Homo sapiens: one gene and its partners. The protein of the gene in region 4 interacts with the protein of the main gene of each other region in a biochemical or structural test. Each region holds a gene or a part of one and is shown on either strand. Other genes may lie near its edges. The genes, in order: TLE1, TLE6, SRF and FOXG1.

What was found.
Region 1: the proteins of FOXG1 (region 4) and TLE1 form a complex in vitro, tested with the Homo sapiens proteins (one study listed by BioGRID).
Region 2: the proteins of FOXG1 (region 4) and TLE6 form a complex in vitro, tested with the Homo sapiens proteins (one study listed by BioGRID).
Region 3: the proteins of FOXG1 (region 4) and SRF form a complex in vitro, tested with the Homo sapiens proteins (one study listed by BioGRID).

Annotation. Positions count from the first base shown.
Region 1 is NC_000009.12:81,686,540-81,694,268, forward strand, and holds the start of TLE1 (transducin-like enhancer protein 1), read right to left. Parts: upstream 3,009-7,729; 5' UTR 1,702-3,008; coding exon 1,678-1,701; intron 896-1,677; coding exon 795-895; intron 1-794. UniProt on the Homo sapiens protein: Transcriptional corepressor that binds to a number of transcription factors. Inhibits NF-kappa-B-regulated gene expression. Inhibits the transcriptional activation mediated by FOXA2, and by CTNNB1 and TCF family members in Wnt signaling.
Region 2 is NC_000019.10:2,980,549-2,987,564, forward strand, and holds part of TLE6 (transducin-like enhancer protein 6), read left to right. Parts: intron 1-989; coding exon 990-1,035; intron 1,036-1,599; coding exon 1,600-1,641; intron 1,642-2,647; exon of another isoform or gene 2,648-2,766; intron 2,767-2,835; exon of another isoform or gene 2,836-3,065; intron 3,066-3,121; exon of another isoform or gene 3,122-3,671; intron 3,672-6,280; coding exon 6,281-6,343; intron 6,344-6,434; coding exon 6,435-6,690; intron 6,691-6,807; coding exon 6,808-6,824; intron 6,825-7,016. UniProt on the Homo sapiens protein: Component of the subcortical maternal complex (SCMC), a multiprotein complex that plays a key role in early embryonic development.
Region 3 is NC_000006.12:43,166,324-43,174,275, forward strand, and holds the start of SRF (serum response factor), read left to right. Parts: upstream 1-4,945; 5' UTR 4,946-5,333; coding exon 5,334-5,846; intron 5,847-6,072; exon of another isoform or gene 6,073-6,141; coding exon of another isoform or gene 6,142-6,255; intron 6,256-7,523; coding exon 7,524-7,790; intron 7,791-7,952. UniProt on the Homo sapiens protein: SRF is a transcription factor that binds to the serum response element (SRE), a short sequence of dyad symmetry located 300 bp to the 5' of the site of transcription initiation of some genes (such as FOS).
Region 4 is NC_000014.9:28,761,825-28,769,786, forward strand, and holds the start of FOXG1 (forkhead box protein G1), read left to right. Parts: upstream 1-4,962; 5' UTR 4,963-5,455; coding exon 5,456-6,925; 3' UTR 6,926-7,962. UniProt on the Homo sapiens protein: Transcription repression factor which plays an important role in the establishment of the regional subdivision of the developing brain and in the development of the telencephalon.

The DNA of each region.
Region 1 (7,729 bases), on a different chromosome or scaffold from region 4:
AGCCACTTCGCCTCATCTGTGTGCTTTTTCTCAAGCATGACAAAAGCAAAAAATGTCAATACAGTTATTTCTGAGTTAGAATCAGGTAAAACTTCATAGGAACAAGGGAAAGAAACTAACCTTTCTGGGAAGTTCACTATTGGCAAAGTATTTTACAAAAATTTATAAGTCCTTTGAAGGTAAGTCTCATTACTTGAAGAAACTAAGGCTGAGATGGATATAAATGTGACTCCACTCTCTCATCCTACCCAAACCAATCCGAAATGACGCCAAAGCAGGTGAGCTTTCTTCTTTATACTATTATACCCACCTCCCTCACCATCACCAATGATGGGCAATGTTATAAGCATCTAGCCTTCCTTAATGGACTTTGCCTCAGAAAACCCAATTTTCTAGTATGGCAAACAGCGATTTCAACATGGCTTTGCTTCCCTGAACCCACACTCCAGGACTGAGACATCGATTGAACCAATGTTTCAGCTCAGTCTGCTGAAAAATAAATACATGAAGTGCAAATATTGACGATTCTCATGCAACTCCTAAAGACATGAAAAAGGACTCCCTGGAACAGTGCAAACCGGCAAAAGGGAAACAATGGGAGGAGGAGGAGACAAGAGAAGAGGCGGCCCGGGAAGAACCAGGAAAGGGGGTAACTTGAATGACAGGTCTTAACTGAGACTCCACACGCCACCGCCTGGACGCAAGAACTAAGTACAGGCGCCGCCGCCACCCGGCTGGGTGCAAGGGGCACCGGGACGCCCGCGACCACTCGCATGGCGCGGCCGGACACGCACCTGTGATACTGCGCCTGCAGGAACTGGAATTCCTCTTTAATCCGGTCCAGGGACTCCGGGATAGTGAACTTGAAGGGCTGGCCTGCAGCCTGGTGCGGCGTCTGGGGGCGACCAGCGAGGGGGACCGAGGGACGGGAATGCGGGCGGATGAATAAAGCAGTAAGTCAGAGAAGGCAAGAACGGGTGGGACATAAACATAAAGTTAGAAGTGGCTGAAAACGAGGCCCCAAACTCGAGTTTGCCCTTCACTATGGGGAGGGGGAAAGCGGACCCTCCCCGGGCCCCGGCTTCTAAAGAGGCTCGGAAGCTCTTCCCAGTCTCCAGGGCGGATTGCGCTAAGTGCGCCCGGGTCACCAGGCCAAAGGGAAGGGGGCTCCCCGGCGGCCAGGGAAGACCAGGCCAGATTGTCGGTGTCGCCGCCCCTTCCCCCACGGCGGCGATAATGACCCCGGGGACCAGAGGAGAAAAACAACTCCTTTACGCTCCCCATTCCCAGAGTCGCCGGGGCCACCTCCAGACGCACCGGAACCGGGGCCGCATTGACATGTAAATAGGCGAGAGGAGAAACAAAGGGGGGGGCGCCCTGCCCCCACTCGGGGAAGGTAGAGGGGATATGGCTGCAGGAGAGAAACCCCAGCCTTCCCCAGCGCCCCTGTCCGCTCGGTATAGACGTCAAGTAGGAAGGAGCCCAAAGGGAGGGAGAAAATTAAGAGTTTCGGCCCACTCCCCACCCCAGGAAGAGAGGGCCCCAGACCTCCCCAGCCTTACACCGCTGAGGGCGAGAAGGTCCGCCGGGCCTCAGAAGCCACCAGTCTCCCTACCGCCCGGGAGAAGCGCCTCCCCAACGATCCTGGCCCCCCACCACCACCCAGCCGCGCCTCACCGGGTGCCGGCTCTGCGGGAACATCGCTCTGGCGGCGGCCGGGGCTCTGTTCCCCGGCAACTCAATTCTCCGGTCAATTTCCAACTTTAATCCCGCCGAGGAAAATTAAGCCGGAAAGCCAAGCAGAAGCGGGGAGCGCGCTGGCCACGCACGCGCGCTCCGCCGGGCGCACCGGCCACTCGGCGCCCGCAGCTGCTCCGGCTCCCGCTCCCGTCGGTGCGGGCTCCGGCCCTCAGGGCCACATTAGTGGGCGCCCCAGGCCCAGCTGCTTCAAGAACCTGCGCGGAGACGTCGGGCGCTCGGGGACTGTGCGCGGGGGCAGCGCTCCAACCCCCGGCCTCAGCTGCCCGGGCGGGGAGGCGGGGGCGCGGTGACTCCGACCGCACTCCCCTCGGCGATCCGCGTGCGCGGCGCCAGTCCTGGGCAAACAAATCCAGACGGACTGCTTTTCTTTGCTCTTCTCCTGGTCCGCCTCCTCTTCGGGCTTTCCCCGAGGCGGCGGCGGGCGAGGTGCAGGTGGCGCGGCGGCCCCCGCTAACCCCACACAAACCCGACGCTTTCGGGGCGACTCCCGCAAGATTCGGCTGCGCCTTCGGCCGGGTGCTCGCAGGCTCCCGGGACGCAAAGGGGAGCGAGGTTGAAGACGCAGCGGAGGCTCCTGGCCGGGGAGCGACGGATGACGAGGCGGGGAAAGTGCGGAGGGCGCGCCGGGAGGCGGCTCGGCACGCCCCGTGCGACCAGCACTCGGTGTTCTCCGCGGTTGCACAAACCCTCCGGGCCCGACGGGGCTACTCCACCGAGAGCAGTCCCGCAAGTGCCCAATGCTCCTCGAGCCCGGGGAGCATCAGGGCGCCGCGCCTCGGGCGCACTCGCCCTGCACGGCCGGACCGGCCGCTCCGGACCCTTCTTCCGAGCTCCTTCTTCCTCGGTCTTCTTTCTTTCCTTCCTTCACCTTCGTGTGCTTCTCCGCAAAGGGCGCTCCAGCCCACTGCAAAGTTCTCTCACCACCCGAGGGACGACATCCACGAGATGGTGGGGAAAACAGCAGGAGTGCGCTCCGCCAATCGGCCACCCTCCCCGGCGGGCAAACTCTGCGGGCGAGTCCAGAGTAGTCACAGCGGTGGGGCCAGCGGGGGTTTTGGTCGCCGCGGGACGACGGAGGTCCGGGCTGGTGGCGCGGGTCCCGCCCGGCCGTGCGAGGGTGGGGTGGCGCAGTCGGCTGCCTCCGGGACGCGGGGCACAGAGTACCCGCCGCTGTTTCTGCTGCTGCTGCTTCTGCAGCCGCCGCTCCCACCGCCGCCGCCGCCCGCGCCTCTCGCGCCGCTTACATTAACACGCGGTTTCACACTCCGGAGCTAACCAGCGCCGGCCCCGCCCAGCCCCGTTCGGGCGGGGGGCGCGAGCGCGGAGCCGGCGGGGGACGTGAGCCCGGGAGGTTGGGGGGTGGGGGGGGGGCAGAAGGCCCGCATCAGCCAATCGCGTGCGCTGCAACCAACGTGGGGCGCTGACGCGCTCCTCCCCGGAGCGTATGGCAGCGCAGCGCCGGACGGGGCGTTCTCCCTCCCCCCCTCCTCTCGCTTCCATCTCCGCCGTCTCCTCGGTCTCCCTTCCCATCCCGGCCCCTCCTCCGCCAGCCGCGTCCTCCCGGGCTTGGTGAGGAACTGTTCCTGGAGGAGCCGCGGGACGCCAAAACCAGCCAATGGGAAGCGGCGATTCGCGGAGATTGGCACTGATGATGGGAAGGTCGGTGGGAAGGAGAGCGGCGGGGCTGGGCTGTCAATCAAAGTAACGTGGGGCTGGCTAGAGAGCGCGCGGGCGCGCGCTAGCGGGAGGGACTGGCGAGCGTGCAGCCGGGGAAGCTGAGGGCTCGAGTTAGCAAAAATCCTGCCACTTGCTCACTTTTCCCTTTAATGAAAATCCTCAGATCTAAGTGAAAGTAACTCAAAGACTAGCTGCGGAGTTTCTTATTGGAGGCGGAGGGGGGCTTTTGGTAATTCGAGCAAATGTGTTTTTCAGTGCTGGACCCCTTGTTTGATGCTACTCTAAAAGTGAGGCCACATTCAAAAATTTATCTGAGGTTTGTTTTTCCTTGAGCTGCCTTTTTACGGATGTACGAGAGGGAGTGGACTGTGCACTTAGTTGGAAATGCGTAAATGAGCAACGCCACGGTTGGCGTAGGTACACCAGCAAAGACGACTGTGATGTCCTCCCACCCCACCCACCCCCTTTGCACCCAAAGTGGTAGGATTTGATTTTTATTGCAGGATTTCAAGCCACTTTTCAAAAAGATCGTCCTGTCCCGTTTGGCGGGAAGGATTCCCAGGGTGCTGCCAGAACAAGGCACGCGTGTCCGCAGATGAGACGTTTTGCCCGGGGCGCGAAATCCCAGGTCTTCGTCTTAAAAGTCCTGACTTCGCTGTGTTGGGAGAGGTGGGGAGCGGCTGAGGTTTTTAGGAACTTCTCAGCTACAAGACTACGAGTCTGTTTCCAATTCCTGGGAACAAAGAGAGACAATGTAATAAACCAGCACTGAGACCTGAAAAACCTGTCCCGCACACCCCACCCCCACAGTCTGGGTGGTACTCCTGAGCTGAGCTGTGTGAAGAGCTAAATGGGAAGAGTTAGGTAAATGACGTGGCTAAGGTTCTTATGAAGTGGAACTTGAGTTAAAAGGGATTTTGAGATTGTAATAATCAAGACATGCTGTATAATTAATGCTGAGAGTCTTTGGTTTTTGTGTATGTCTCTAAATACACAGCAGAAAACCGTCAGTATTGCCGCATTTATGCTTTTGTTTGAGGAACATTTCCACATGAGCAGTGAATGAATAATGCTGGTTTAGCCAAACGGTGGTAACTTCTTCCATAAGGGCACATCTTGGACAAGTATTTATCTTATGTTGGAAACTAGTTAAGTTTTTGGTATTAATAACCCCCACGTTATTATTTTATTATTTTACCTTCAAGAGACTTACGGGAAGGAGCTTATTTAAACAGACATACATTTTATTTAAAGATGTGCTTTTACAGAGTTCTTTTTCTTGAAATAGTTTTAGAAGTCATTTTAGATAATACATTTCACTGTTGGAGTTGTTTTTAAATATGTATGATATTGATTTGTCTATAATTGCATCACTCCCAAATATCAATTATAAATGAAAAAATAAAAAAGCGATTTTAACCAGTCTGTACGAAGCCATAGTAAATTCTTAAACAAGTTGGGCATTGTAGCTTTGTGGTGTTCTCATTAAGTACAGTTGGGAAGGCGGCTGTATTATTCATTTTGCTAACATGGAGAACAAAAAAGAAGAAAGCACTGCCTCACTTTCCTTGGTTAAATTTGGTGACGATGACAGTTTTGCTCGACATACAGGACTTTTTGGAATCATAGGATCCCAGGGCCTTTAGCAACCTGTTTTCCTTGAAATTATCTAGTGATTGAGCCACATATACCAGTCTGCGGCCAGTTCATCCCATAATCAGCTCCAGGACCGGACAGAAAGTGCTTGGATGCCACAAGTATGCTTGTATACATGCTGTGACAACTGGAGCAACTGATATTCCTCCCCGGCTTACCCAGGCTTTATGTGGTGCCTGTATCTTGAATAACTGGCACACTCCCATTAAGTTTAAACAGAGCCATTAAAATATGCTTTGAGATGGGGCAAAAGTGTTGCTACTTCTCTTCTTTCCCCACCCCGCTGCCCTCAAAATCAGTACTAAGGCATCTTTAAATGTTCTCTAACATAACTACTCACAGACAATGTGTCTGCTCACCATATTTCCCAGTTTGCCATGAGTAAACACTAGAAATTCTCTTTTAACTAGTCTTTCCTTGCCAATAGAGTTTGAAACACCAGGCCTTCTGATTTCCTTATAATGAAGTATCTGTAGTATCTACAGAGCATTATGAATTTAAAATTGGAAGGCCTTTAATTGTGTGCATAAAAATGGTTGGTTTTGGTTTTTGAAGCCTTTTTTTCCCATTTAGAGCATCGTCTGTCAGAGTGGGAGAAGGCTCTGCCCTTTTCAAGGTCATATTTTCTCCACGATTGTCATGCTGTAATAATTATACTACAAAACTCTCATCAAACTGCATTACAAATGACGGCGTTTAAACAGTCAAGTAGCTTTAATCTTATGTTTTAAATAAATAATATATGTGCAGATTGCCTACAGCCTGTTTAAAAGAAAATAGTCCTCCTCATGAAATCTATAATTTTGGTCTTCCATTTAAAGCCTGTTAACCATAATCTTCTTTACCTTTAACATTCATATGTCAATGATGTTTTTATGTGAAATGTATGATGCTCCCACTGGAAATTTTCTCTGAAAAACACAGTACCCTTTTTATGCTCTGCAGAGAAACAGAAAGATTGTCAGCTTGTTCATTTTCTTTTGATGCATATGTGGGTATATTCCCATTCATTTGTTGCTGATTATCAAATTTTCAACTCAGCAATAGCCTAAGTAATTACAAAAGCTAGATGTTATCTAGTACAGATACTAAACAAAATAGGAAAAGTTATAGATGCTGATCGTAGCAACTAGACATCTTTTAAATCTATTACTTTTTTATTTGAAATAATAATTGTAATTTTTTAATTTTTTTTGGAGACGGAGTCTCACTCTGTCTCCCAGGCTGAAGTGCAGTGGTGCCATCTCAGCTCACTGCAACCTCTGCCTCTTGGGTTCGAGATTCTCCTGCCTCAGCCTCCCCAGTAGCTGGGACTACAGGCGTGTGCCACCACACCCGGCTAATTTTTATATTTTTAGTATAGACGGGGTTTCGCCTTGTTGGCCAGGCTGGTCTCAAACTCCTGACCTCGTGATCCGCCCTCCTCAGCCTCCCAAAGTGCTGGGATTACAGGCATGCACCACCACACCTGGCCAATAATTATAGTTTTTAACAGACCACTTTTGTTGTGTTCTCTTCCTTTTAGCTGAGAATTATTGCTCATACATTTCCTCATTTGACTTTTTTTTTTTTTTTGAGTCAGCATCTCGCTCTGTCACCCAAGCTGGAGTGCAGTGGTGCGATCTCAGCTCGTTGCAACCTCCGCCTCCGAGGTTCAAGCGATTCATGTGCCTCAGTCTCCTGAGCAGCTGGGATAACAGGCGTGTACCACCACGCCCGGCTAATTTTTGTATTTTTAGCGGAGACAGGGTTTCACCATGTTGGCCAGGCTGGTCTCGAACTTCTAACATCAGGTGATCCGACCGCCTTGGCCTCCCAAAGTGCCGGGATTACAAGCGTGAGCCACCCCGCCCCACCTTTTTTTTTTTTTAATTGATAGTTTTCTTAAACCTAAGAATGTAGGGTCCAGAAGAATTTTTCCCAGCATTTCTTGGTAATCTTTTTCTCCCCCACTCCTTTACCAAAGAAAAGGGCAAGATGGACGTGGAGGTGAAAGGAAGAACGCAGAGAAGGGAAAAAAAATCAGTAGCAGATCCATGCAGCAGTAAAACCTCAAATAAAATCACTTCCAAAGAATCTCTTGCGGTTTCACACAATATGGTAAAATTAGAGATTGCAGGAAACCAACTAAATTAAACTGGGAGCATTTGAAGAGAAATGAGCAGACTTTATGAAAATGACACATTGACTGACCAGTATGCTTTTTTATCAACAATTTCTTTGTTAAGACGAAGATCAAAGGAACCTGCATATGTTTTCATTTTGTTCTAACTAGAAAATTACATCCAGATGTTTAATAGGCATTTGGTTGGTTTTTCAGCATTGATTAGATATGTTGGTTCTGTTTGCTTACAAGTGCAGCCGGATCATTAGCTAATGCAAAGAAATGTTTGCTGTGAGTTGCTAATTAGGGCTTTTGGAAGCCCTCCATGCTCAAGAACAATTTGTACTGTGGCCAGAAGAACTTGAGGGACTTGGGGAAGTTGTTTTCCCTTCTCTGTCAGAGTGGGGAGAAGCAGAAAGCCCTATTCCCTAATCTCCCTTTGCCTAGGGGGATTGCGATGAGATCCCCAAGGATTGGAGTGCAAATAAAGTAGGAAGAGACCACACAGGCACTCCCAAACATGGAGAGATA
Region 2 (7,016 bases), on a different chromosome or scaffold from region 4:
AACATGGTGAAACCGCGTCTCTACAAAAAATACAAAAATCAGCCAGGCTTGGTGGTGGGTGCCTGTAATCCCAACTACTTGGGAAACTGAGGCAGGAGAATCTCTTGAACCCAGGAGGCGGAGGGTTGCAGTGAGCCAGGATCACACCATTACACTCAAGCCTAAGGCTACAGAGTGAGACTCGGTCTTTAAAAAAAAAAAAAAAAAAAAGTACTGCATGGGCTGGGTGCAGTGGCTTGCACTTGTAATCCCAGCACTTTGGGAGGCAGAGGCAGGAAGATCGCTTGAGCCCGGAGTTCAATACCAGCCTTGGCAACATAGCGAGATGCCATCTCTTAAAAAATAAAAAAAATCTAGCTGAGTGTGGTGGTGCACACCTGTAGTCCCAGCTACTCAGGAGACTGAGGCAGGAGGATCATCTGAGCCCAGGAATTGGAGGCTGCAGTGAGCCATGATTGTACCACTGCACCCTAGCCCGGGCAACAGGGTGAGATTCTGTTTAAAAAAAAAAAAATTGAAGAAAGTGGCGGGGCGCGGTGGCTCAAGCCTGTTGTAATCCCAGCACTTTGGGAGGCCGAGGTGGGCGGATCACCTGGAGTCAGGGGTTTGACACCAGCCTGGCCACCATGGTGAAACACTGTTTCTATTAAAAATACAAAAAAATAGCTGGGTGTGGTGGCAGGTGTCTGTAATCCCAGCTACTCGGGAGGTCGAGGCAGGAGGATCTCTTGAACCCAGGAGGCGGAGGTTGCAGTGACACTGCACTCCAGCCTGGGTGACAAGAGTGAGACTCTGTCTCAAAAAAAAAAAAAAAAGAATATACTGCATTAAAATCTTACTGAACTTCTTGACACTGCCTTAAATTTGGCTTCTGGAGCCAGTGCCTTCCAGCTTCATTGAGACCCTCCCTAGGGGTTGAGGGTGGGGCTCACTCTGGGGAGGGAGTCCTGAAGCCACAGGTCTTCCAGCCTGTCCTCCTTCCCCCTCAGGTTTTCTCCTCATTTTGCTGCGGAGTTGGAGAGCATTTACTACTCGGTGAGCCAGACCCAGGCAGCCCCAACCAAGGAGGGCCCCACTGGGACAAGCTGAGGCCCTGGTTTCCCGGCCCTGCCTCCTGAGTGCCCTAGAGAGGTTCTTTTCCGCCAAGCACTGTGCCTCACGCCTGTAATCCCAGCACTATGGGAGGGCGAGGCAGGTGGATCACCTGAGGTCAGGAGTTGGAGACCAGCCTGGCCAACATAGTAGAGACCCTGTCTCTACTAAAAATACAAAAATTAGCCGGGCATGGTGGCAGGTGCCTGTACTCCCAGCTACTCGGGAGGCTGAGGCAGGAGAATCGCTTGAGCCCAGGAGGCAGAGGTTGCGGTGAACTGAGATCACACTGTACTGCAGCCCAGGTAACAGAGCAAGACTCTCTCTGAGGAAAAAAAAGGTAGGGACCATACATCAGTGTAGTAAGAAAGTAAAAGAGAAAACAAGGTGAAAACAAAAATTTAAGGTGGGGGAGTAGGGGCCAGAGAGGTAGAGCAGCTTGCCCAGGGTCACACAGCATTCACACCCGGACCACCTCCCGATGGGATCTCTGTTTTCCCTTTGCAGCTGCACAAGATCCAGCAGGATGTGGCAGAACATCACAAGCAGGTGGGTGACCAGGAGCTCAGGGGTGCGGCTGTCCCTCCATGAAAGGCATGAGAAAGCACAGAGGGGGGCCGGGCACAGTGGCTCAAACCTGTAATCCCAGCACTTTGGGAGGCCGAGGAGGGTGGATCACTTGAGGTCAGGAGTTCGAGACCAGCCTGATCAACATGGTGAAACCCCGTCTCTACTAAAAATAAAAAAATTAGCCAGGCGTGGTGGCGGGCGCCTGTAGTCCCAGCTACTTGGGAGGCTGAGGCAGGAGAATTGCTTGAACCCGGGAGGTGGAGATTGCAGTGAGGCAAGATCGTGGAACTGCACTCCAGCCTGGGCGACAGCGAGACTCTGTCTCAAAAAAAAAAAAAAAAAAAAAAGGAGGTGGGGGATGGTGAAGACAGAGGACGAGGGGTAGGTCATGCTGAGCCTTGTGGGCCGTGGGAAGGACTTGGGCTTTGACCCCAAGGGAGGTGGGAGCCATGGAGGACTGCTGGCAGAGGAGGGACATGCCCTGACTTGGAAGCCCCCGTGATATTAGTGGAGGCCCCATATCTTGGGGAGCATCTCCTGTCCTGTCTCTGAGCTGCTTCCAAGAGAGGGTCAGTCCTGCTCCTTCCGCTCCCTGGGCCCCTGCGCAACCTAGATGACCCTTTGCCGGTCAGTTGCTTTGGACAGAGAGAGCCTGTGATGGGGCAGGCACCCGGCTGTGTTCCCCTGCGTGTCTGAGTGTTCAATGAGGGGCCATATGACATGGGAGTGAGGGGAGCTCTGCATGGGAGGGGGCGCCCGGGCTCCCATCTCCCAGCCCAGGGCGCCTGGCCCAAGCAGAAGTACGCCTTCCAGCCCTGCCTGTCCTCCCGCCACCTGGCCTTTTCTCCCAGGCGCTGGCAGGATTTTCCGCCTGTGCCAGATGTAACTGGCAGGGGCCCAGGGCCGTGTCTGCAACTTAGCAGGGCCTGGGAGGAGGGGGGCAGCGAAGGGAACAGGGTGAGGGGGGGCCAGGAAGCAACCAAAACATGGTTATTCATTCAGCAGATATTTATCCATCACCTCCTTGCCAAATACTGTTGTAGAAGCCAGGAAAATAGCAAAGAACGACGCAGAGCTTCCCACCCTTGGGGCGAGTGGAGCCTGGTAGATGGAGTGTTAGGGGATGAGGGCTGGGCAAGGCGGGGGATGGAAGAGAGCAGCCCCAAGGGGATTGGGGAGGCCAGGGTGGGCGAGGGTTGCAATTCAGGGTGGTCAGGGAAGGCATGCGAGAAGGTGACATCTGAGCGGAGGCTTAAAGGACATCAAAGAGGAAGTGTGGCTGTCTGGGATGGGAGGGATATTTCAGGCAGAGGGCACAGCCTGTGTGAAGGCCCTGAGGCAGGACGGTGCCTGTTGTGTTGGTCCTGAAGGCACTACGAGGAAGCCCGCATGGCTGGAGCAGAGTGAGAGGAGGAGGGGGGGAGGGCAGGCCACGCATGGCCCTGTGAGCTTCAGGGAGGACTTGGGCTTTGAACCCTGAGGGAGGGAGGTGGGAGCCATGGAGGGCTTCAGACAGAGGGCAGGCCCTGGCTACTGCGGAGAGGACAGAGAAGAAGGAGGAGGGATGAGGGCAGAAGCCCGGGAACCAGTTAGGACAGTCCAGGTGTGGAATGCTGGTTGCTTAGTGATGAGAAGTAATTGAATAATTGTGGACGTGTTTTGGGAGGAACTTGACCGCAGCTGCTGAGCATCAGGATACGCAGGGGGTGAGGGCTCCAGAGCAAAGGAGCCACTTCGGTTGCAGCCAGACCCAGGAGGGTCCCTGCCCAGCCCCCACTGCAGGGGGCCCCAGGATCCCTGGCAGCCCAGCCTGGCCTGTGGTCCTGGGCAGTCCGCTTCCCCCACCCGCTGCTTCCAGTTCCGGGCTTTCCCAGCCGCCTCGCTGTGCTTTCAAAATCGCCATCAGCACAGCCCCCTCCTCCGACAGCCCGCCTGCCACTCTCCCCCGGGAGGGCTGCTAGCAGGCACAAGGGAGCCACACTTTTCATGCTGAGCGCATTAAAGTGCCGGTAAATTGCGCATTAACGAGGCGGGGTGAATTGGAGAGGGCTCCCCTGGGATTTGCTGCTGCTGGGCGGGCTCAGCTGGGAAATCCATCACTGGCTGCCCCAGGAGGCATCAGCCTGGAGTCCCCCCCCCCCCGCGGGGCTCCGATGGAGGGTCTCCCCTCCCGGCCCCTCCCTCCGCCGTCCTGCTAAGGAAACAGACAGGTAGCCTTTTTGTAGAAAAAAACTTAAGAGATAGGATCACTCGCCTTGCTTTCTTTTTTTGTTGTTTTGACGGATCATGCTCCGTCTCCCAGGCTGGAGTGCAGTGGGAGGATCTCAGCTCACTGCAACCTCCACCTCCTGGGTTCAAGTGATTCTCCTGCCTCAGCCTCCCAAGTAGCTGGGATTACAGGTGTGTGTCACCATGCCTGGCTAACTTTTATGTTTTTAGTAGAGACAGGGTTTTGCCATGTTGGCCAGGCTGGTCTCGAACTTCTGACCTCAGGTGATCCGCCCGCCTCAGCCTCTCAAAGTGCTGGGATTACCGGTGTGAGCCATCGCACCTGGCCAATTTCTTTATACTTTGAACATGGCTACTAGACATTCCATATGCATGACTATATTTATGTATTATTCCAATTCTACTTGTACTGGATGGTATTGATCTCGATTTTATTCTGTTTACTGAGAAACTACATTTAACTTCGGGATTGACAGTGGTCAGATGGCTTGATTTTTGTTGTTGTTTGTTCGTTTTAAATAAAACACCAGACTGGGTGAGGTGGCTCACGCCTGTAATCCCAGCACTTTGGGAGGCTGAGGTGGGCAGATCACCTGACGTCAGGAGTTCGAGACCAGCCTGGCCAACATGGAGAAACCCCATTTCTACTAAAAATACAAAATTAGCTGGGCATGGTGGCGGGTGCCTGTAATCCCAGCTACTTGGGAGCCTGAGGCAGGAGAATTGCTTTAACCCAGGAGGCAGAGGTTACAGTGAGCAGAGGTGGTGCCATTGCACTCCAGCCTGGGCGACAGAGCAAGACTGTCTCAAAAGAGAAAAAAAAATTACCACTGACTTGTTTCTATCAATTCTCCCCAGCAGGTAACCCTCAGTTTCTTAGTATCTTTCCAAAGTTTAAGCAAATTAAAACGTCTTCCTCACCTAGGGAGACCTAGGTATGCTGTTTTGCTGCTTGAAGCCTTTTTTTTTTTTTTTTTTTTTGAGACAAGTCTCGCTCTGTCACCCAGGCTGGAGTGCGGTGGCATCATCTCGCATCTGGGCTCACTGCAAGCTCCGCCTCCTGGGTTCAAGCCATTCTCCTGCCTCAGCCTCCCGAGTAGCTGGGACTACAGGCACCTGCCACCATGCCTGGCTAATTTTTTTTTTTTTTTTTGTATTTTTAGTAGAGATGGAGTTTCACCATGTTAGCCAGGATGGTCTCAATCTCCTGACCTCATGATCCGCCCGCCTCGGCCTCCCAGAGTGCTGGGATTACAGGCGTGAGCCACCGCACCCGGCCTGCTTGAAGTCATTTGAAGCAAAGTGTGGTGGTGGTCAGGTTTTCTTTTTAAAACATCCCAAAAAGAGTAGCTGGGGCCAGGTGTGGTGGCTCACACCTGTAATCCCAGCACTTTGGGAGGCCAAGGCAGGAGAATCATCTTAGGTCAAGAGTTCAAGACCAGCCCGGCCAACATGGTGAAACCCTGTCTCCACCAAAAATACAAAAATCAGTCTGTGTAGTGGCACACGCCTGTAATCCAGCTACTTGGGAGGCTGAGGCAGGAGAATTGCTTGAACCCAGGAGGCGGAGGTTGCAGTGAGCCGAGATCACATCACTGCACTCCTGCCTGGGCCACAGCGTGAGACTGTCTCAAAAAAAAAAAAAAAAAAAAAAAAAAAAAAAAAAAAAAAGATATATGCCAGGTGCGATAGGCCGGATGCGGTGGCTTAAACCTGTTATCCCAGCACTTTGGGAGGCACACGTGGGAGGATAGTTTGAGGCCAGGAATTCAAGACCAGCCTGGCCAACATAATGAGACTCCCATTTCTACAAAAAGTGTATTTAAATTAGCTGAGCGTGGTGGTGCATACCTGTAACCCCAGCTACTCAGGAGGCTGAGATGGGAGGATCACTTGAGCCTGGGAGGTTGAGGGTGCAGTGAGCTGTAATCGCACCACTGCACTCCAGCCTGGGTGTCAGAGTGAGATCTTATCTGCAAAAAAGTAGATGAAGGCTGGGGGTGGTGGCTTATGCCTATAATCCCAGCACTTTGGGAGGCTGAGGTGGGCAGATCACCTGAGGTCAGGAGTTGGAGACCAGCCTGGCCAACATGGTGAAACCCCATCTTTACTAAAAATACAAAAATTAGCTGGGTGTGGTGGTGTGCACCTGTAATCCCAGCTACTCAGGAGGCTGAGGCAGGAGAACCACTTGAACCTGGGAGGCGGAGGTTGCAGTGAGCCGAGATTGCACCACTGCACTCCAGCTTGGGTGACAGAGTGAGACTCTGTCTCAAAAAAACAAGTAGATTGATATACCTTCTTCTACAGGTGGGGATAATCATGCTGTAGGATTGCAAACCCTTAACTGCAACAACATTTAACTGTTTTGCTGCCAACCTCCTTCTAGATAGGAAACGTCTTACAGATTGTGGAGAGCTGCAGCCAACTCCAGGGTTTCCAGTCTGAGGAGGTGAGTTTCTGGGTCTTCAAGGAGGGGAGGGGACAGGCTTGGGTGAAGGCTCATCCTCAAAGCTCTCACTGCCTTGTTCCTGCCGGGCCAGGTCTCACCTGCTGAACCAGCCAGCCCTGGGACGCCCCAGCAGGTGAAGGACAAGACCCTGCAGGAGTCGAGCTTTGAGGACATCATGGCCACCAGGTCCTCCGACTGGCTCCGGCGGCCTTTGGGGGAGGACAATCAGCCGGAGACCCAGCTGTTCTGGGACAAGGAGCCTTGGTTTTGGCACGACACTCTGACCGAGCAACTCTGGCGGATTTTTGCCGGCGTCCACGATGAGAAGGCAAAGCCCAGAGACAGACGTGAGTGTCCCTGAGGGTGAGGGGGAAGGGGCAGCCACAGGCTGCGTCTCAGGGGCTGTGCAGTGAACCCTGCTGTTCTCTCTGTCCCCCTCCTCCTCTCCGTTGTCATGGTGACAGAGCAGGCACCAGGCCTGGTGAGTAAACAACCTCAGCTCTATCCAGAGGGGTGGGCTTCCGGGCAGGCGGTTGGGCTCCCCCAGGTCAGGGCACTGGGGTTCCTGTGGGATTTGTCTTCCTTCCATCCTGCCCCTCGGGTCCCCCGGGGGGGACTTGGGTGATCCAGGAGGCTATACTGGAGTAGCCCAGGACCCACAGCCCAGGGCTTC
Region 3 (7,952 bases), on a different chromosome or scaffold from region 4:
GTTCAAGCGATTCTCCTGCCTCAGACTCCCCAGAAGCTGGGATTATAGGTGCCCGCCACCACACCCAGCTAATTTTTTTTGTATTTTCAGTAGAGACAGGGTTTCACCATATTGGCCAGTGTGGTCTCAAACTCCTGACCTTAAGCGATCCATCCGCCTCAACCTCCCAAAGTGCTGGGATTACAGGCATGAGCCACCGCACCCGGCCTATTTTTGCTTAATTTTAAAAGAAAAATATAAAAGTCATATTGATTGTCAAAGAAGTCACATGGTACAAACTTATATAAAGCAAAAAAACACACCCCTCTCATCCCAAACCTCACTCTCCATAGGTAAGCACTATTAGTGTTTGGAGTGTGGCTTTCCAGACTTTTCCTGGGCACAATGACTCATAAATTCTTTTCCATTACTGCTAATGCTGCCATCACAATTGATACCCTCTTTGCCTCTGTGCAAAATTATGAATCCCTGAGTAAAGGTTAATTCCAAATGAAAACAGATTTAGGGTATTTTGACAGTAATTTTTTTTTCTTTTTTGAGACAGGGTTTTCCTCTTACCTAGATTGAGTGCAGTGGTGCCATCATGGCTCACTGCAGCCTGGGCTCAAGCAATCTTCCCACCTCAGCCTCCCTAGTAGCTGGGACTACGACTACAGATGCGTGCCACTGTGCCCCAGCATTTTTTTTTTTTTTTGAGATGAAGTTTCACTCTTTCACCCAGGCTGGAATGAAGTGGCACGATCTTGGCTCACTGCAATCTCTCCCCTCCAGATTCAAGTGATTCTCCTGCCTCAGCCTCCTGAGTAGCTGGGATTATAGGCATACACCACCAGGCCCGGCTAATTTTTGTATTTTTAGGAGAGGTGGGATTTTTGCCATGTTGGCCAGGCTGGTCTTGAACTCCTGACCTCAGGTGATCCACCCTCCTAGGCCTCCCAAAGTGCTAGGATTACAGGCATGACCCACCTTGCCTGCCTGTGTTTTTTTTTTTTAAGAGATGGGGTCTCATTGTGTTGTCCAGGCTGGTGTCAAAACTCCCGGACTCAAATTATCCTCCCACCTTGACCTCAAAAAGTGCTGGGATTTTAGGTGTGAATCACTGCACCCAGCCATGACAGTAATTTTTAAAAGCAATCCTTAATTTTTGTTTGTTATTAGTTAGGTGATAAAAATCAGAAGAAAGAAAGAAAGGTCAGGGTGGAATCTGTGTGGTGTGAGGGATCTGGCTGAAATTCCCATGCACTTACAGAGGCCCTTCATGGTCTGGGGTGGACATGAGCTCCCATCTGTTGCAAGGTGCTACTCTGATCAGGCCTTTTCGGAGGAACATTTCAACTTCACATTTCAGAGCAGCCAGGCAGGAGCTTACCTAGGCTCAGTAGGCTGCGTGGAGTCTATGGTAAAGTGGAGAGCCTCTTCTATGGCCACCATCAGCTCCAGGTTATAATGCTTTTGTGGGTACCTAGGCCCAGTGTTACCAAAAATTCTGATTTTTTTGAGAGAGGTCAGATATTCAGATTTTTTTTTTTTTTTGAAAAGGAGTCTCACTCCGTAGCTCAGGCCGGAGTACAGTGGCCCCATTTAGGCTCACTGCAACCTCTGCCTCCCAGGTTCAAGTGATTCTCCTGCCTCAGCCTCTCGTGTAGCTGGGATTACAGATGTGTGCCACTATGCCCGGCTACTTTTTTATTTTTTTAGTAGAGATGGCGTTTCACCATGTTGGCCAGGCTGGTCTTGAACTCCTGACCTCAAGTGATCCATCCACCTTAGCTTCCCAAAGTGCTGGGATTACAGACATGAGCCACCACGCCCGGCCAGACATTCAGATTTTTATGTAAACTCTTATGATTTTTAAATGTTATAAGGTCCAAATAAAACACCTCTATGAGACAGTTTTTGATTTTGACTTTATCCCTAGCAATACTTTTGGCTCTGGAACCTGCAGTAATCCAATAGTGTGGGTAGAGGTCTCCTCCTGACTCCCTGTGGTGACAAAGGACATGAAGATGGGCCATCCCAAGCAGACAGAGAAGCTGTGACACTAACACTGGTGTGCAATGACCCAGGAGTTGGGAGAAGTTGAAGAGAGGGCAGCCTATTTGAAGGGAAGCTAAGGACTGCGTTCTTCCCAGACACCCTCCCCTATAGATGTGACAGAGAGCAGTTGTCCCTGCTGAGGGATGTCACCCCTGCATGTGTCTAAACTAGGGGGCGCAAATGAAAGGGTCTTTAGAGGGCAGGTGGGAATGAAATCCCAGAGCTTTGGCTGTAATATTATGGTGCTCAGACAAAACATGACCCCAGGCATCATTTGTGGTCCCTAAAACCCTTCTGGAACCTATTTATCTGTTTGACCTGTTCTTCCTCTTGGGCTAACACGTTCCATATGTTTAAGTACCTGTTGTAAAGAGTAAATTAGTGGAGGGAGGGGAGACCTCTTTAAAACTATTGGGGGCTGGGTGCAGTGGCTCAGGCCTTTAATCCCAGCACTTTGGGAGGCCGAGGTGAGAGAATCGCTTGAGCCCAGAAGTTTGAGACCAGCCTGGGCAACATAGGGAGACCTTATCTCTATATGACAAAAAATACACACTATATTTTATTCACTATACACACAAAATACACACTATATTTTACTGATCACTTGCACATATTTTATTTCAGTATTTTTCAAGCTTTTGGATTGTGACTCACAGTAAGAAATGCAGTTAATATTGTCATCCATTACACACATACACTGAATTATGAGAAATTGACAATATCCCACCTTCTTGACCTATAAAATGGCAATTTTGTAGGGTTCAACCTATATATAATGCAAACAAACATTTTATGCAACAATATTTGCCCTTGCTTTTTGTGATACCCATTAATTTATTCTTTTAAATGTTGATTGTAGTATACTGAATTGATATCACTACCACTACCAGTAATGACTAGGTTACAATCAACTGCTTTATTTAATCTCCATAATTTTTCGGGCAGGAATAATCACTGCCTCCCATCCCCTTAAACATGCCAAGATGCTTTATCCCTAGGATGAGGTGACTTACTCCAGGTAACTCCTATTGCCTAACCACTGACCAATTACTCTGCCCTTTAGTCTTTATGTCATTAAATCTGCATTAAGAATTTCATGGAATAGGCCCGGCATGGTGGCTCATGCCTGTAATCCCAGCACCTTGGGAGACCGAGGTGGGAGGATCACTTGAGGTCAGCAGTTCGAGACCAGCCTGGACAACATGGCGAAACCCCATCTCTACTAAAAACACAAAATAACTAGCCAGGTGTGGTGGTGGGCACCTGTAATCCCAGCTATTTGGGAAGCTGAGGCAGCAGGAGAATCGCTTGAACTGGGGAGGCAGAGGTTGCAGTGAGTCGAGATCGTGCCAGTGCACTCCAGCCTGGGCGACAGAGCGAGACTCTGTCTCAAAAAAAAAAAAAAAAAAAACTCAGGGAATGGATAGCAGCATTGATGAATATTGCGTCTGGAGAGATCAGATCACTTGTCACTTGTTTCCAGGCACAGGGCTTACCAAGAGGCAGATTCCAGATTTAAATAATTCTGTAACAGCAAAGTCCAAGCTATTTTCACTGCTTTGGAGAAAAGACCCAGACCCAGAGCTTGAACCTCACTTTGCAGCACCCCAGTTCTAATCTTTTAAGTTTTTTTTTTTTTTTTTTTTTTTTTCTGCTGGGCACGGTGGTTCATGCCTATAATCCCAGCACTTTGGGAAGCCGAGGGGGAAGGATCGCTTGAGGCCAGGAGTTCGAAACCAGTCTGGGCAACATGGCAAAACCCCATCTCTACAAAAAATACAAAAATTAGGCCAGAGTGGTGGCGCGCACCTGTAGTTCCAGCTACGTGAGAGGCGGAGGTGGGAGAATCGCTTGAACCCGGGAGGCAGAGGTTGCAATGAGCTCAGATCCCGCCACTGCACTCCAGGTTGGGCGACAGAGCGATACCCTGTGTGAAACTTTTTTTTTTTTCTCCAACGGGCTTTCCAGAGAAGTGTGTGTATGTGCGTGTGTGTGCGCGAGCGTGCTTGCTTGGGCTTAAACTTTCTGTCGGGCCACACTTTCCCAAGTCTTTGCACTGGCTGTAGGGTGGGCTTTATCCTCGGGACGTCCTCCTCCCCAAGTCCAGCCTGCAGCTGGAAGTCTTCACTGATCTCCATCTCTCCTCCCTGATCTCCGTCTCTCCTCCCTGCCCGCCTCAGGACTGGGAGGCCGATCTCTCTCTCTCGCCCTCCCCTCCACCAGCCTTTTCCAGATGTATGTCTGCCAAAGACCCCCCAGTGCAGAGGATGATGAATGAAGATCCTCGAGCCAGCCCGGTGGGAAAGTTTCGTCGCCTACAAAAGCGAGGGAAAGGGAAGGGAAGTTGGGGGTAGGGGAAAAGTTAGAGCTGAGAGGCTGGGGCGCGACGAGTCTGGACACCGGGCGGGGACCCAAGCTCTCTCCGCTCAGCCAATAACTGTGCCTCCCTTAGGAAGGCGTGAGGAAATGCTCCAATCAATCCCTGCACTCCTCCCTTGGAATTTGGGCTGTATTTTTTTATTTACTGCAAACCCCACAATCCACCCAGGGGTTTCCCCAGTGTTTGCCTCCAGCGGTCCCGGTGCCCATTTACTAGTGCTGCTCCCTCTCTTCCGCAAGACTGCGCTCCAGTCCCAGCCTCCTTCTCCGCGGGTGCCTCCCAAACCGTTCTATCATTCTCGGGTTCAGGGAGGCGGAATCGTGCCTGCTCTCCGGTTCCTTTAAGAGGCGTCGGCTCCACCCCTCTCAGAGTCGCGGTCTGACGCGAGATGACAGCAACGAGTTCGGTATGTCTATGCAAATAAGCGCCCTCTTGTGGGCCAATGGGGAGCGGAGGTGCCGGAACCACGGACCAATGGGGCGGGGGCGCTGGGGCTCACCATATAAGGAGCGGCCTCGCCATAAAAGGAAACATTGTATCTCTTTATATGGGGGGAAGGGTCGGGGGATCCCTCCGCCGCCAGCGCGTGGTCCCGGCCCCCTCCACCCGCCGTCTCGGCCGCGGCCAGCAGCCCCTGCCCCCCGGGGGACGCTGACGGCCGCCCGGCGCGCCGCCCTAGCAGACGGACAGGGGGCGCTGCGCGCGGCCTGGGGCAACCCGGGCCACAGGGGCAGGAAAGTGAGGGCCCAGGTCGGCCCGGGCGTGCAGGGGCCCCGGGTTCGCAGCGGCGGCCGCGGCAGCGATAGCGGCACTAGCAGCAGCGGGAGTGCCGGGTTGAGCCGGGAAGCCGATGGCGGCGGCTGCGGCGGCTCCGATTCCTCGCTGACTGCCCGTCCGCCCTCCTGCATCGAGCGCCATGTTACCGACCCAAGCTGGGGCCGCGGCGGCTCTGGGCCGGGGCTCGGCCCTGGGGGGCAGCCTGAACCGGACCCCGACGGGGCGGCCGGGCGGCGGCGGCGGGACACGCGGGGCTAACGGGGGCCGGGTCCCCGGGAATGGCGCGGGGCTCGGGCCCGGCCGCCTGGAGCGGGAGGCTGCGGCAGCGGCGGCAACCACCCCGGCGCCCACCGCGGGGGCCCTCTACAGCGGCAGCGAGGGCGACTCGGAGTCGGGCGAGGAGGAGGAGCTGGGCGCCGAGCGGCGCGGCCTGAAGCGGAGCCTGAGCGAGATGGAGATCGGTATGGTGGTCGGTGGGCCCGAGGCGTCGGCAGCGGCCACCGGGGGCTACGGGCCGGTGAGCGGCGCGGTGAGCGGGGCCAAGCCGGGTAAGAAGACCCGGGGCCGCGTGAAGATCAAGATGGAGTTCATCGACAACAAGCTGCGGCGCTACACGACCTTCAGCAAGAGGAAGACGGGCATCATGAAGAAGGTACCAAGCCGGGGGGCTGGCCGGCCCCGGGGCCCGGTTGGGGTGGGGATGTGCAAAGGGAGCCCGGGAGGACCGCAGAGCCGAGGCGGAGGTGAGAGGCTGCGAGTCCGCAGGAGGTGTGTGGGAGGGGATGGCTCCTGCCCGGGGAGGGCCGAAGGGGAGGGGCCGCCGGGGAAATGTGGGGAGAGGGGAGATCCCGCGAACGCTCGCAACCGTGGGGAAAGGCGCAGAGGTGGGAGTGACCGGCGCCAGAGAGGAAGAGGGCCCTTGCTGAGTGAAGGGGTGAGGAGCGGTGATGGGAGGCTACGAGGCTGCCGGGGAGGTGGATAATGAGAACCCGGGATCAGTAGGTCCAGTGCACTCCGGTGTTCGGACGAGGGCGCCGGAAAAGCAGGGAGCAAACGAGAAGGTATGGAGGTGAGGAGGCTGGAGCTGCATGACAACAATGAGCGAACATGTGTGGGAGGAAGTGGGCACCACGAGAGTAGTGCTGGTTGGAAGGACAGGCAGGGTTAGGGACCAGGTAAGGGAGCGGGGCAGGAGAACTGGTGCTGCCCTGAGCAGCAGGAACCTAGTCCTGCGCCGGCCGTGAGTCTTCCATGGCATCCACTGGGAACCACATGCTCCTGGCAGGACCCGCTGCAGAATCTCCTGCCGTTAGGACAAGTGGGGTTTCCAGCCCTAGGGAGAATCTATGCTTGGATGGGGTTTGGGGGAAGTCAGGGAGGCTTGCAGAGGTACCTAGGAATTCCTCTTCTGCCAGCCAGTGAAAAGTGTTGAGGAAAGGAGTCATTTTGGGGTGTAGACGATAAGGGAAGAGATGAAAGCAGAGGAACTGGGAGACAAGGAGCTGGATCCTTGGGAACACTGGCTGGTGTTTATTTCTGTCCCATGTAGAAACCAGAGCTGCTTCCAAGGTGGTTTGCAGAACTTTGTTGGGAGAGTATGGCATCTATGGGGCCATCCTTGAAGGTCCCCTTCCTGGGCTCATGGCAGGATGTTTAGTGCTAATCTAGGTCTCGTCTCCCATCACTCCAGACACTGTTGTATCAGTGTCCCTTGTCACTTGATCATCAGTGGAGAAGATTGTGGGGGGAGGTAATTAAGGAAAACTCTCTTCTCTCCTTCCATAACCTTCTTCCCAAGACAAAGGAGTAAGGGCAGTAAAGTATTACAGGGCAAAAGGAGAAACTAGGCTGTGGCAACAAGTTGGAGCCTGTGCAGTTTCTGGAAAGAAACATGGGACAGTTGGAGCTTAAATGGTCCATTATCACTAATGTCTTGTACAAATTCCAGTGTGATAGGTAGGGATCCATCCTGGTCCCTGTGACAGTGAGAAGGGGTGAGGCTCTGGGACATTCCAGGCACTAAGCTGTGTTGGGGAGCAGCTAGCTGGGTCCTTCGTATCCCCTGAAGTTATATGTTCCATCACTGGGGGCTGTTACTGTTTGCTTGGGGTATCTTCAGGTCAATGGGGCTGCTCCTCAAAGGAGGAGCATGGGTAGTTTTGCTGCTTCCAGAGATCCTGATAGGACACCCTGCCCTCAGAGTCATTAGAGACGAAGGTCATTATGGGAATGGGGGAATGACATCACTGTATAATTCTTTTTCCAACTTCTCAAGGAAGGTAGAGATAAAAAGTTTGCTGACCTGCCCATCTCCCTCCTCACCCCTCAGGCCTATGAGCTGTCCACGCTGACAGGGACACAGGTGCTGTTGCTGGTGGCCAGTGAGACAGGCCATGTGTATACCTTTGCCACCCGAAAACTGCAGCCCATGATCACCAGTGAGACCGGCAAGGCACTGATTCAGACCTGCCTCAACTCGCCAGACTCTCCACCCCGTTCAGACCCCACAACAGACCAGAGAATGAGTGCCACTGGCTTTGAAGAGACAGATCTCACCTACCAGGTGTCGGAGTCTGACAGCAGTGGGGAGACCAAGGTGTGTTTGGGTTGCCTATGTGAGAGGAGGGAAGGGAGTGGGGTCCCTCTCCCTTTCTGGCCCAGGACAGGTGGATAGGTGCCCACCGATGTGGAGTGGAGCCGGATTAACGACCCTCGTCCTAGGGGACAGGTGTCCATCCTCACTTTCCTGATAGAAGAC
Region 4 (7,962 bases):
TCCCTTTTAAAGTGGCTCCCTAGCTTACACAAGCTAAACATTTCCACTCTCATAGACGAGGCTCTCCCATAGATTTTTTTACTCGAGGTTCTCAAGCAAAATTGCCGGTGCCACAATGTTATGATGGAAGGATGCTGAAATGACAGGCCTAGTAGACGCTTGTCTTAATCATCGGCTTCTTAATTTAGTTTTAGTGCTGTGTGTGTGTGTGTGTGTGTATGTGTGTGTGTGTACACACACGCGCGAATGTGCGCGCCCCCGGGGACGTTGAGGGTGCGCGTGCGCGCGCTGAGAGCAGCCACTGACAACCTGCAGCTCCCTAATGAGTGACGAGGCAGGGCTGCTGCAGAAAAGTAACACTTCCCTGGTGTGAAGACCTCTTACTGAGAAGTTTAGTTCACTACTGTTCTCGCAAACCTAATCGTATAACCTGTAACCAAAACCCACAGAACGAGGATACAACACGCTAAAGAGTAACTTCTAATCACTAAATGTTAGCACCATTACCTGCTGTTAGGAAGATATTATAGACGAGTTGGCTCCAGCGAGGGCAGACCTCACCTGCCACAGGATCTCTGGAAATACCTGGATGCCTCTGTATGGGATCTCCTCACTCCCAAACGTCACAAGGTCAGAAATTCTCTGTGCATCTGCAGGAAGAGAACTTTAGCTAGAGCTTGGCGCTGGGTGCCACTCCAAGGACACCCTGTCCAGGGAATGGAGAGCAGAGTGGATTTTAGGTAAATGGGGCCCACCTTCCTTTAACCAGCAGCTAGCAAGAAGAAAAGAGGCGGATCACTGACTGAAAACAGGAAAGAGGCCCTAAAGAATACTTAAATAACACCGCCAAATGGAAAAATGAAATGTTCTGCTCCCTACTCGGATGAAGTATGCTGTGTAGCCTTGGTTATTAATTAAAACTCCAGAAGGAATAATCTAATTCATTTCCTAACCAATTCTTCCATTGGAACTGCTCACTCTTTACGGGGCCTGACCTCTTTGGGAGAGCTGGGGGACTGCAGACAGAGCAAGAGAGAAGTTTACTGTGATATATACCAGAAAATTACATTTACTTTGACTTCTGCTTTTATTCATTAATAGTACACATTTGTAGATGTCTGTGTGAGAGATCAAGGTTAGATCCATCATGAGAAAAAAATTAGAATGATAGAGAATTTGTTTCAGGTCTGAGACAACTGAATTCCCTCTGTCTTCTGAAGGTAATCACGGTGACTGAGTGGGGCTGAAGATTGGGCTTCCAGTGCTTAGGGAAGAGGCCCGAGGTGGACAGAGGCAGGCCTTCAAATCCAATTTGCACCCAAATTGGCTGGTAGGATATACAAAGCCCCATCCAGAGACTTTCAACTTGCACAATACTCTGTCCAGGACCCCCCTCCCCCTCCATTTCAAATAGTAGCAGTTCTTTAAAAAAGCTATTGCTGAGACAAACACGGGGTGCTGAGTAAACAGTGCATGTTTTGTTGAACAAGCTATATATATATACATATATACACACACACACATATATATGTGTGTGAGTATATATATATATCACCATCTCGACATAAAGTGCAATTGAAATTATTAAAAGGAATTAAAACTCACTTCTTGCCAGATTACAAATAACTTTTGTCATTAGGAAGAATAGATTTTTAAATATTACATTAAACTATATACTATTTATGCCCATAAGAATATCCTATTTTGAGAGACTTGCATTCATGCAATCCTTAAACTATATAACATAGCCTTAATTTGAATGAAAAACATTTTCCCAGTCAATATGAGCTCCTAGCATATAAAATCAGATTATTACAGTGCTCATTAGCAAACCCCAGTTTTTGCTATTTGAAAGTAAACAGAAGAAAAACTTATTTCCACCTGCTAAAATTTTATACAGGATTACAAAACAATGCACGCTCAGATTTGACCTAAGAAACACCTTAAAACATTAAAAATTCATCAGTCAGAGCTGGTGTTGTATTGAAGGAAAGCTCCTCCAGTTTGCTGCTGAGCTCGGATTTGAATAAAATGTCCAATGTTAACAAACAATACCCACGTTTGGCACTTTGTGTATTAAATTGATCAAACAGATTTTAGGAGGCACAATGCACAATTTGTACAGACCTGATTGAGTTAATATAATATCAGCAAATTTTACATCGAAATGATTCTGTTTCTTTTCTTTGTGTTTAAAACCAGCACAGATTACAAATTTTAATGATCTGAAAATGTTTGGTATACAAAATCATGCTTATTTCAGTATTAGCAAAAACACAAGAAATTTTTCAACACAAACACCCAGCTGTGTCTATTTTAAAAGCAGTTCAATGACAGCTTGCACTTATGAGCATGCAATCAGCTAATTTCGTTTTTTTTTTCTTCTGTGTTAATCAACACTTTCCTTCCTGCATATCAGAGTACAAATAGTATAGTTACTCCACATCAGTAAATGTTTACGTAACCTGTCCTTTCCCAAGAATCCGGTTACACCGAATCATTTCACGCTAGACCGACTACGAAAACGTACCGGGCCGTCCACCTCAGAGGGAGCCCTGTGTGCCATTATAAGTGGTGGTGAGAAGGGGGGCTGTAAGAGGAGAAATTGGGAGGAGTAGGTGGAGGAATGGAGAGACAGAGGAATGGAGGGTGGGGGGAAGGGGCGGGGGGAGCTAAGGGAGAAGGAGGGAGGAGGGAGGAAGGAGAGTTGAGGAAAAGTAGGAAGAACGGGCCTGAAGAGGGGAGAAGAGTGGGAGGAGGAAAAGTGAGTAGGAAGGGGAAGGCCCACAAATCTCTCCAGCCGGTAGGCAAAGCCCATTAGCTCACCCGGCCCTGCGAGAAATCCAGAGCTTGGAAATAAATGTTTGGGACCATGTCACTATCAACACTGATTGTTGGAACCCTTGAATTTTTCCACATGTAAATACAGTTTGTTTTAAAGTGAGAAGATATGTAGACATAGGTAAAGATACATACATACAGTGGAAGGACATTTGAGGTTAGTCCAATATTCAAAGCTCCTTTGTGGCATTCCTAATAGATGCATATTTAAAATTCACTAGCTATTTGTAATTATCTATTATTCTCTCCAGTTTCCTCCCCCCCCCCCAACCTTTTCTCTCTTTCTCTTTCTTAAGACTGGGGGTGGGGAGGATGGAATAACCCCCTATTATCCTGAGTATTCATCAACCGCATTCTTTATGTTACAATTTAACTTTAGGATCAAGCATAAGCACCAATTTTCCTTCCTTCGTTTTCTTAAATACCAAATCTGCCAGATATCTTAATGAAAGTTTATCCAAGTGAAGAAATGCTTACATTTTATAATTATTTACCTTCTAGAGGAAGGAAAAGGTGCCTTTCATTTATGCTTCTCCACCTCCCTCTTCTCTGGGGCTACATCCTCCGTAAAATGTGGTATGTTTCGTGCCCATGTGGGATGAAACAGCCTTTGATCAATGTGCTCCCCACTAAATTCCAATCCCTGGGAAATGCTGGGCCTTAGCCCTGCCCCTGGCCACGGGATCCTTTTAAAGCCCCCGATTCGCAATTTCCCCATTCACTTCAACCTCCAACCGAACCTTCCCAGTTCCAAAGCCCAAGAAGCTGGGACTGTGAGATCCACGTTCCCAAGGCTCCCCGGTGCTTTCCAGCAGCACTCAGGGTTGGCAAGAGCTGGCTTCAGTATACTGTTATTTCAGGAATGAGGCCCGCACAAAATAAAAGCATTTGAGAAACGGAAAGGAAAAAAAAGGAGTGAAAATAGGAAGGCTTAAAAAAAAAACCGGAAAGAAATAGACGCCCACCCTTATTTTCCCTCCAATGTCAACAAGCAAAACGAAAATATTTCCAGGGTGATCGCTCGCAGCTACCCGCTTCCAATTCGGATTAGAAGCTGAGGCTGGAGCGGCGAGGAGAAAACGACATCGAGTCACCCCGCGCGTGAGCGACGCTCTGGAGCAGGAGAGAAGGAAAAGGAAGAGACACACGTATATAGCATGTGTTACCTGATTTATTTCGAGATTGTTTGGTACTGTTTTCTCTCTGGGCACCTCTCATTTCGGAAGGCCATCAGAGGCGCCCACTACTGAGCGGCCCCGGCCGCCGCAGCAGCACCCGGAGCCCCAGTCCCGGTTTCCCCGCGGTGCCGGAGCCCGGAGCTCGCCGCCGCCCAGGCCTCAGGAATCGAGTAAGTAACCCCTGTTTGGCCCCGCGCTCCTCTGCCCACTTCCTCCTCCTCATCTCATCGCTCCCAAAGCTCTCCCACACCCTCCTCCCCCGAAGTAAAGGACACCCCCGCACACACGCCAGCGGTGGGCCTTATCTCCCCCCTTATCCAAAGCTGCGCTAGACTATTACCTACAAAGGGCACAATTTTCCTGCTGGCTCAGAAATGCCAGACACTGGCCTGCAAGGCCGACTCGGAAAAGTAGTGCCTCGCCTCTACCTCCTCCATTTCCTGCCCTCTCGCATCCTCTCCCTGCACTCCCACTCTTCCCACTACCACCACCACCCCCGCTTTCAAAAATAAAATTGGATACAAACTTTAATCACTAAGGACAAATATTGACGCTTAAACGAAAATGACCCAGTACAATGAGGAGGAAGCCGGAAATGTGAGCTATTGGCCCTAGGAGGGGAATTTCGGTGGAGCGGAGCCGGCGGGGTGGAGGGGGTGGCGGGGGCGCAGGGAAGGGCTGCGGCACCGCGTGCTCCCGCCGGCGTATCCCTACGCGGCTCCGCGCGGCCTCGGGGTCCGAGGCCCGCGGAGAGGGGGAGGCGAGCGCCCGAGGGGGCGGCAGCCGGCGGGCGGGGCGGGGGTGGGTGGGCCCGGCCCCTCCGATTGGTCGACGGCGAGAGAGACGCTCCCGCACGCCGCCAGCTCTGATTGGCCCAGCGGTAGGAAAGGTTAAACCAAAAATTTTTTTACAGCCCTAGTGTGCGCCTGTAGCTCGGAAAATTAATTGTGGCTATAGCCGCCTCGATCGCTGTCTCCCCAGCCTCGCCGCGGCCGCTCCGGGACGCGCCCGCCCGCCGCCCGGCTCTCCCCCCCTTTGGGCTGCTGCTGCTGCTGCTGTGACTGCTGCTGCGAGAGGAGGAGGAGGAGGAGGAAGCAGCGGGGGGGGGAGCGGGGGGTGGGGGGGGAGACCAAGAAGTACAGTTGGGAGCGAGGGAGCTTCACCCCCGGGGCGGTGGTTGTTTCTTTTTTCTTTCTTTCTTTTTTCTTTTCCTTTTTTTTTTTTTTTCTAATTCCTGAGGGGTGGTTGCTGCTTTTGCTACATGACTTGCCAGCGCCCGAGCCTGCGGTCCAACTGCGCTGCTGCCGGAGCGCTCAGTGCCGCCGCTGCCGCCCGCGCCCCCCGCGCCCCGTTCGGCACCCACCGGTCGCCGCCGCCCGCCGCGCCGCTGTCCCGCTCCCGCGCCGCCGCCGCCGTTTCCCCCCGACGACTGGGTGATGCTGGACATGGGAGATAGGAAAGAGGTGAAAATGATCCCCAAGTCCTCGTTCAGCATCAACAGCCTGGTGCCCGAGGCGGTCCAGAACGACAACCACCACGCGAGCCACGGCCACCACAACAGCCACCACCCCCAGCACCACCACCACCACCACCACCATCACCACCACCCGCCGCCGCCCGCCCCGCAACCGCCGCCGCCGCCGCAGCAGCAGCAGCCGCCGCCGCCGCCGCCCCCGGCACCGCAGCCCCCCCAGACGCGGGGCGCCCCGGCCGCCGACGACGACAAGGGCCCCCAGCAGCTGCTGCTCCCGCCGCCGCCACCGCCACCACCGGCCGCCGCCCTGGACGGGGCTAAAGCGGACGGGCTGGGCGGCAAGGGCGAGCCGGGCGGCGGGCCGGGGGAGCTGGCGCCCGTCGGGCCGGACGAGAAGGAGAAGGGCGCCGGCGCCGGGGGGGAGGAGAAGAAGGGGGCGGGCGAGGGCGGCAAGGACGGGGAGGGGGGCAAGGAGGGCGAGAAGAAGAACGGCAAGTACGAGAAGCCGCCGTTCAGCTACAACGCGCTCATCATGATGGCCATCCGGCAGAGCCCCGAGAAGCGGCTCACGCTCAACGGCATCTACGAGTTCATCATGAAGAACTTCCCTTACTACCGCGAGAACAAGCAGGGCTGGCAGAACTCCATCCGCCACAATCTGTCCCTCAACAAGTGCTTCGTGAAGGTGCCGCGCCACTACGACGACCCGGGCAAGGGCAACTACTGGATGCTGGACCCGTCGAGCGACGACGTGTTCATCGGCGGCACCACGGGCAAGCTGCGGCGCCGCTCCACCACCTCGCGGGCCAAGCTGGCCTTCAAGCGCGGTGCGCGCCTCACCTCCACCGGCCTCACCTTCATGGACCGCGCCGGCTCCCTCTACTGGCCCATGTCGCCCTTCCTGTCCCTGCACCACCCCCGCGCCAGCAGCACTTTGAGTTACAACGGCACCACGTCGGCCTACCCCAGCCACCCCATGCCCTACAGCTCCGTGTTGACTCAGAACTCGCTGGGCAACAACCACTCCTTCTCCACCGCCAACGGCCTGAGCGTGGACCGGCTGGTCAACGGGGAGATCCCGTACGCCACGCACCACCTCACGGCCGCCGCGCTAGCCGCCTCGGTGCCCTGCGGCCTGTCGGTGCCCTGCTCTGGGACCTACTCCCTCAACCCCTGCTCCGTCAACCTGCTCGCGGGCCAGACCAGTTACTTTTTCCCCCACGTCCCGCACCCGTCAATGACTTCGCAGAGCAGCACGTCCATGAGCGCCAGGGCCGCGTCCTCCTCCACGTCGCCGCAGGCCCCCTCGACCCTGCCCTGTGAGTCTTTAAGACCCTCTTTGCCAAGTTTTACGACGGGACTGTCTGGGGGACTGTCTGATTATTTCACACATCAAAATCAGGGGTCTTCTTCCAACCCTTTAATACATTAACATCCCTGGGACCAGACTGTAAGTGAACGTTTTACACACATTTGCATTGTAAATGATAATTAAAAAAATAAGTCCAGGTATTTTTTATTAAGCCCCCCCCTCCCATTTCTGTACGTTTGTTCAGTCTCTAGGGTTGTTTATTATTCTAACAAGGTGTGGAGTGTCAGCGAGGTGCAATGTGGGGAGAATACATTGTAGAATATAAGGTTTGGAAGTCAAATTATAGTAGAATGTGTATCTAAATAGTGACTGCTTTGCCATTTCATTCAAACCTGACAAGTCTATCTCTAAGAGCCGCCAGATTTCCATGTGTGCAGTATTATAAGTTATCATGGAACTATATGGTGGACGCAGACCTTGAGAACAACCTAAATTATGGGGAGAATTTTAAAATGTTAAACTGTAATTTGTATTTAAAAAGCATTCGTAGTAAAGGTGCCCAAGAAATTATTTTGGCCATTTATTGTTTTGTCCTTTTCTTTAAAGAACTGTTTTTTTTTCTTTTGTTTACTTTTAGACCAAAGATTGGGTTCTAGAAAATGCACTTGGTATACTAAGTATTAAAACAAACAAAAAGGAAAGTTGTTTCAGTTGGCAACACTGCCCATTCAATTGAATCAGAAGGGGACAAAATTAACGATTGCCTTCAGTTTGTGTTGTGTATATTTTGATGTATGTGGTCACTAACAGGTCACTTTTATTTTTTCTAAATGTAGTGAAATGTTAATACCTATTGTACTTATAGGTAAACCTTGCAAATATGTAACCTGTGTTGCGCAAATGCCGCATAAATTTGAGTGATTGTTAATGTTGTCTTAAAATTTCTTGATTGTGATACTGTGGTCATATGCCCGTGTTTGTCACTTACAAAAATGTTTACTATGAACACACAGAAATAAAAAATAGGCTAAATTCATATATATCTTGATACTTTTGTCTCTTTTATTAAGTAGAGCTAATTTTTTAAAGACCAATCAACTTATAGGGAATTCAAAGGCTTTTTCAGCCAAACTAAAATTTAAACTGCTCCTTTAATT